Homo sapiens: one gene and its partner. The protein of the gene in region 1 interacts with the protein of each later gene in a pairwise test. Each region holds a gene or a part of one and is shown on either strand. Other genes may lie near its edges. The genes, in order: FNBP1L and USP13.

Region 1 (3,827 bases):
TATGAATTAACTTGTAATAAATTTGAGCTGTGCTTACAGGGATTTCTAGTGTTCCAAATGAGTAAATAAGTTAGTGAATATATACTACAGTCACAGTTTTGCATTGTATTCTGGGTAATACCAAGGAAAGAGATGATACTGTCTTCACTTCTTCAGGATGCGTGGTAACATCTTAGGCATTGCTTATTGTGTTCATTTCTTTATTACATAGCAAGAATGGATGGATCAGATAGCCAAATATGAATTAATAATTTCACAAAGCACAGATTTTGAAATTACTAGCTTTTTTTTAACAGATAGGGACATTAGAGATTGGAAAAGACCTATGTTTAGTAAATAAGTTTTACTTATTAAGAAATAGGTTTTTAGTTTTTGAGGACCTAGTTAAAGTTCGACAGAAAAAATCTGTGTATGGGTTGTGAATGTGTGTATAAATATGAAAAAAATATATGGCTGAGCACCTCACATTCATATGATTTACTGAAAAATTTGCTACCCAAGGAAAATGCTGGACAAGTCTGGTAGTTAGAAGATGGATTCAAATATCTGATTTAATTTATAAGTGCATATAAATCTTTTTTATGCCTTAATTTCTTGGTCGATATAATCTTTGGCCCTTAGTTTAAGAATGTGTAATTTAAAAGCCATTGTTATTTTCATCATATTATTTATATTATTATTATTTTTGAGATGGAGTCTCTTCTGTTGCCTAGCCTGGAGTGCAGTGGTGCGATCTCGGGTCACTGCAACCTCAGCCTCCCTGGTTCAAGCCATTCTCCCACCTCAGCCCCCCGAGTAGCTGGGATTTCAGGTGCACACCACCATGCCCGACTAATTTTTGTATTTTTAGTAGAAACAGGTTTTCACCACGTTGGCCAGGCTGGTCTTGAACTCCTGACATTGTGATCCGCCCGCCTCGGCCTCTCAAAGTGCTGGGTTTACAGGCGTGAGCCACCGTGCCCGGTCTTCATCATATTATTAACTAAATGCATTTGACAAAGCTTATATCTTTTTGGAAGAAACTGAAAAATGTGGGTTGAGTGATAGATTAGGTGGATAATTTATGTATTATCCTCAGTGTTAACCTTTTAATACTTTATTATCTTGGCTTCATAACACTTTATATAGCACTTAAATTTACATTGTAAGTGACTAGATTGTCCTTGAGTGTAGAAAGGCTGGATTCATCTTTGTTTTCACTGACCAAGACAATGCTTGTAGGTGATCATGCATGTTTTGCCCAATTGCATTAATAGTTGATTGCATTACCCAGAGTATTGATTACTAATTAGCAAGTGTATCTTTAGGGTTCTGAAGGCCTTTGTAGATGGTGATAGGTTAGGTGATCTGGATAACAGCTCAAGAAAGTCTAAAGCTGAAACCAAAATTATAAAGTTAAGTTTTACTACTTGGGTTAAACATTTTTGTCAAGTAAAATGGTAAAAGGATGGGGAAGAAAAGACCTACAGGTAATTTCTGGTGAATTTACTTGATTGATAGCTTGGTAATGTGACTGCCTAAATAATTGGTGAAATCTTAGGCCACATTAATAGATTTATCTGTAACAAAGGAATTGGGTCTCATAGTCTACTGGTTAGACCATATCTGTAATATATATGTATATTTTTAGAGATGGGGTCTTGCTATATTCTCAGGCCAGTCTTGAACTCTGTGCTCCACAATCGTCCTTCCTTAAGCTCTCAAGAAGCTGGGACTGTCTATAATATTGACTTTAATTTTACTTCACATTTTTTGGAGGGTGCTTGTCTAGAGGAGGTTGACAAAGAAAATTCATTATTAATGTAAACTGAATTGCTTCTCCAAAAGTAAATGAAAGGCCGTGAAACTGCTGTAGGAATTCAGTTTTGTTTTAAAAATACAATAATTTTGTGTCTATTATTTGGGAAGCACTGTTATGTTTGGTGAGATTTATGAAGGCTTATGATATTGGCCCTGCCCTGACAAAAGGTAGAGTTGCTTTGAGATGATATAACTTTACTGTAAACTCCAAAATACTTCCCTACATTGATACCACTGCCCAGAATGCCCTCTGTTGACCAATTCCTATCAACCCCATGCCTCCAGACTACCCATTCTGGATATTGTCTTATGGGACTACCACCTTATATTACGGTTATTATAGTTATTTCTTGTGTATTCAAATCTTAGGGAAATTGTCATGGTATAAATACTTAAATATCTTACATTCCCTTTTGTTGGTAGAAATTGTTGTGTTCAACATTGTATTACAGACGTTATTGCTATTAGTTAAGGAGGATGAGTGAGAGGTATCAAGATATCTGTTTATGTCACCATTCCATAATGACTATAATAAGTTGGAAGCTAGAGAGCTGCCTCTAACCAGTATCTCCTTTGCATAGCCACTCATACTCCATTTACTTCCATTTGCTTGCTTTCTTTGCCTTTTTCTTAAAATATTTGCTCTCTCTCCTTCCCCCACCCTATAAACCTATAAAATATGATTTTGGCTGGAAACTTTAAAAAAACCTATTCTACCAACTTTTTCCTCTGTCAGCTAGTTTGTAGAGAGGAAATAGTAAGAGAAATAGTAATGGCTTATAAATGTCAAATACCTTCTGTGTATATCAACAAGTGCTGTCTTATTTAATAATCTTCAATCTTTAAACATTTTCACTTCAATAGCAAAAAAAAATCTGTCTTGGGGAATATATCTATAGAATATTAAAAACTGGTAGGAAAGGTTATGTAAAGGTTTTGTTCTATAGAATGTGAAAGCCGTTCCATATTTCAGTTCAGGCCATGTCTATCTAATACACCTGAAACACGTAAACAGGACTGATGCTTGTTCATTCAACAGATGTTTATTTCATGCCTATTATGGCTTCAGCACTAAGCTAGGCTTTGTGGGGCATACTAAAAGAATCAATTAGATATCAGCATGAGCCTCAAAGCAACCCTAAAACAACTAGAAAGTAATAGATGGACTTTAGGGCTATGAAAAGTGACTTTTCATTCTAGGTATCACAGGAAAATCTTTAGGAAGACTGTCATTTGACCTAGGTTTTGGAATAAGAAGGGTTATGCAGGTGGGGGTTCCTGACAGGTTCCTAGAGGGCAGATATTGTGTCTTACTCATTGCTTATTCATTGTCTGATTCATTGCTGTATCCTGCCTGGATTAGCCTGACATTAGTAGGGTCTTTAATAAATGTTTGTTGGACTGACCTGAGTCTAGTGTTGCGTTTGACTTGAATTTGAGTGCACAATGTCTGAAAGTAGTGATGAAGGGTAGACTGGAACCAGGCAGGCAAAGAGGTTGGTCTGGCTGATTGCTTGATTCATGAACCTCTTGTGTGTGTGTATGGGTGTGTCTGTGTGTGTGTGTGTGTGTGTAGTTACACATTTGTATATAATCAAACCACTTTTCAGACCATTTAAAAATTCACAGAAGAAAATCTTAGTTTATTGGTAGAAGGGATTACCTCTTGCTTCTGAATACTTTGGTGGCAGGAGGGGAATACCTCTGGGTTTTAGAAGATGAAAGTGTATTTATTTTAGCGCCGCTGCAAGAATATTTGAAGGATGTTATTTCCTTTAATAATATGTTACTAATTTGAAATTAGTTTTATTTTTAAATATATATTATTACTACAGCTCGTTTATATTGTTTTTTATTTTCCCTTTATCTGTGACTGTATACTGTAGGCCCTCCATATCATTTGATTTCCACGTCTGTGGATTCAACCAACCATGGACTGGAAATACTAATTAAAACAATCATACAACAATAAAAATAATACAGATCTAAAAACAATACAGCATAACAACTATTTACACATATCATTT
Region 2 (3,827 bases), on another chromosome or scaffold:
ACCTTCCCTCAAGATTAAACAGATATCAGCACTGCAGAAGGGAATTGTCTACCCTGTAGTTTCAGAGTCCCTTGTTTCTTGGTATCAAGAAGTTCATGGCTACCAGAAGAACCTTCTCTTTCTGCAGAGAGAAACAGCAGCAGAGAATTCCAAGGAGCCATTCAGTTTTCTATGAGGACTTTTAAGAGACATTTACCCAAGGTCTTGGTATCAGAAAAGCATTCTATCTCCTAAAGGACTTCTTACTGAACATGGAATTTCATGCATCCCTCTTTCCTCTAGGGCCACAAGCAGCCTCCAAGTCAAATTTCTGACCCCCTGTTAACAAACATTCAAGATGATATCAAGTTTCTTTCAGTTTGCTCATATTACCCCAGATTTATTTATCTCATTCGCTGTGTGAAAATCATTCATTTTAGCTTTATATTTATAATATGCAAATAAATCTTTATGGGCTATGATGAGATTCACAGTTAGATGAATCAAACATGAATCAAAATGATCAAAGTACATTGGAAAGTCTCAACTGCTACAGAAATAAATTCACACACACACACACACACACACACACACACAGTCTCTCATGCTCACCGTTGCTCGTAGTGCCTGAATAGCCTGATTTCGCTGAAATCCCATGGAGGTGATGATAGCTACGATTTCCTCTGGAGGTTGGTTATCCAGTCCAGAAGCACCAAAAACAGAGGCTCCAGCAGAAGCTGCCCCTCCATAACCAGGCATGGTCAGCGGCTCAGCAAAATCTGAGAAAAATAACCACACCCAAGTCTTTTCCTTTTTTTTTTTTTTTTTTTGTCCTGAAACAACACTAACAAGGAAAAACATGATTCTACAAAGTTATAATAATCAAGACAGTCTGGGCCAGGCGCAGTGGCTCATGCCTGTAATCCCAGCACTTTGGGAGGCCAAGGCGAGTGGATCGCCTGAGGTCAGGAGTTCGTGGCCAGCCTGGCCAACATGGCAAAATCCTGTCTCTACTAAAAATACAAAAATTAGCAGGGCATGGTGGTGCACACCTGTAATCCAGCTACTTGGGAGGCTGAGGCACAAGAATCGCTTGAACCCAAGAGGCGGAGGTTGCAGTGAGCTGAGATTGCACCACTGCACTCCAGCCTGGGCAAGAGAGCAAGGCTCTGTCTCAAAAAAAAAGACAGTCTGGTACTGGTATATAGGCAGACATATGGATCGATTAAATAGAATTGAGATTCCAGAAATAAAACCATATACCTGTGGTTAACTGATTTTCAACAAGACCATTCAGTGGGGAAAGGACATTATTTTCAACAAATGATGCTGGGACAACTGGATATCCACATACAAAAGAATAAAGTCAGACCCTCACCTCACATCATACACAAAATTAACTCAAAATGGCTCATTGACCTAAATATAGGAGCTAAAACTATAATAATCTTAGAAGAAAACACAGGAGTAAGTCTTTGCCATTGGATTAGGCAATGGTTTCTTATTTACAACACAAAAAGCACAAGTGATAAAAGAAAAAAAAGATAAATTGGACATCATCAAAATTAAAAATGTTTGTGCTTCAAAGGATACCATCAAGAAAGTGAAAAAACACCAGAATGGGGGGGAAAACACAAATCATATATCTCATAGAAACTCGTATCTGGAATTTGTAAAGAACTCTTAGAACTCAATAATAAAAGGATAACTTCATTAGAAATGGGCAAAGAATTTGAATAGACATATCTCCAAATAAGATATACAGTCAATAAACATACGAAAAGTTGTTCAACATCATTAGTCATTAGGAAAATGCAAACCAAAACCACAAGATACCACTTCATACCCACTGGGATGGGTATGATAAAAAAGATAATAATAAGGGTTAGTGATGATATGGAGAAATTGGAACTCACATTCATTACTGGTGGAAATGTAAAATGGTTCAGCCACTGTGTAAAACAGTTTGGTCGTTCCTCAAAATTAAATATAGAGTTACCATATGACATGGCAATTCCACTCAAGAGAAGTAAAAATAAATGTCCATCCACACAAAAACTTGTAAAAAATGTTTATAGCAGCATTGTTCATAAAAGCCAAAAAATGTAAATAACCCAAATGTCCATGAACTGATAAAGATTAATAAAATATAGTATACCCATAAAATAGACTATTATTATTGTTATTATTATTATTATTTTAGATGGAGTCTCACTCTGTTGCCCAGGCTGGAGGGCAGTGGCGTGATCTCAGCTCACTGCAACCTCCGTCTCCTGGGCTCAAGCAATTCTCCTGCCTCAGTCTCCCAAGTAGCTGAGACTCCAGGTGCCCGCCACCATGCCCAGACAATTTTTGCATTTTTAATAGAGATGGGGTTTCACCATGTTGGCCAGGCTGGTCTTGAACTCTTGACCTCAAATGATCCTCCTGCCTTGGCCTTCCAAAGTGCTGGGATTACAGGCGTAAGCCACCAAACCCGACCCAACAGACTATTATTTTACCGTAAAAAGGAATGAAGTACTGACACATGCTACAACATAGATGAATCTTGAAAGCACTATGCTAAGTGATAGAAACCAAACACAAACGACCTTTTATTATATGACTCCATTTATATGAAATGTCCAAAACAGGCAAATCCCTTGATCCAGAAAACAGATTCGTGGTTGCCAGGGGCTGGGGTGAGCAGGAAAATGGGGAGTGACTGCTATTATGTATGAGATTTCTTTTGAAGGGTACAAAATGTTCTAAAATTTGATAGTGGTAATGGTTACACAACTGTGAATTTATGAAAAACCATTGAAATGTACACTTTAAACAGATGAATATATGCATTATAGCTTAATAAAGTAGATAAAAGAAAAAGCTAACTAAACATCCTCCATTTCTTCATGCCCATGTTTCCATTTCAAATTTTCATCATCGCTTAGTTAGAAGTATATCCCGTATCTTTCTATTGGTCTTTTTGCCACTGACTTATACACTTTAAAGGGATGAATTATATCTCAATAAAGCTGTTTGGGGTTTTTTTTGTTGTTTTTTTGTTTGTTTGTTTTTTTGAGACAGAGTCTCGCTCTGTCACTCAGGCCAGAGTGCAGTGGTGCAATCTTGGCTCACTGCAGCCTCCGCCTCCTGCGTTCAAGCGATTCTCCTGCCTCAGCCTCCTGAGTAGCTGGGACTACAGGTACGCACCACCATGCCCAGCTAATTTTTGTATCTTTAGTAGAGATGGGGTTTCACTATGTTGGCCAGGATGGTCTTCATCTCTTGACTTCGTGATCCGCCTGCCTTGGCCTCCCAAAGTGCTGGGATTACAGGCATGAGCCCCCACGCCTGGCCTAAAGCTGCTGTTTTTAAAAAAAAAAAGAAGAAGAAAAAGACTGGCTTTCTCCTCCACTGCAGGAGATTAGGAACTATAAAGTCATTTTCTAGGGATACATCCACAGGGACCTTGGAAGGACCAGGACTCAGCATCACTGAGGGTCACATCAGACTCCAAAGCCATTCCATTTTCTCGCCACCTACCTGGCTCTTCCATGTGAACAATGATCCAGTTGAAGGCCACCTCGGCGCCCATATTTCCAGTGAAGTACACAGCCTTGCGACATGCTTCCAGCGGGAAACCCATCTCGGCCAGCTGCATCACTGATGACTCATCGATGTCTGATGCTACAGAGCACAACAGGATATTCTAGTGTGAAAGAGGAAACTGTCGCTTCTTGTCTTAGCTACTCTCCACTCTCCTATCCACATGCTACCCAAAGAAAGTGCTATTCTGTTGGGTGTAGATAATGGTTTTACTTTGTTTAGTTTTGTTTTAAGCCACACAAATATTAAAGCTATTTGGG

The links.
Region 2: the proteins of FNBP1L (region 1) and USP13 interact in a two-hybrid assay, tested with the Homo sapiens proteins (one large-scale study listed by BioGRID and IntAct).

What each region holds. Positions count from the first base shown.
Region 1 is NC_000001.11:93,450,984-93,454,810, forward strand, and holds part of FNBP1L (formin-binding protein 1-like), read left to right. Parts: intron 1-3,827. UniProt on the Homo sapiens protein: Required to coordinate membrane tubulation with reorganization of the actin cytoskeleton during endocytosis. May bind to lipids such as phosphatidylinositol 4,5-bisphosphate and phosphatidylserine and promote membrane invagination and the formation of tubules.
Region 2 is NC_000003.12:179,760,933-179,764,759, reverse strand, and holds part of USP13 (ubiquitin carboxyl-terminal hydrolase 13), read right to left. Parts: intron 3,649-3,827; coding exon 3,505-3,648; intron 759-3,504; coding exon 592-758; intron 1-591. UniProt on the Homo sapiens protein: Deubiquitinase that mediates deubiquitination of target proteins such as BECN1, MITF, SKP2 and USP10 and is involved in various processes such as autophagy, endoplasmic reticulum-associated degradation (ERAD), cell cycle progression or DNA damage response.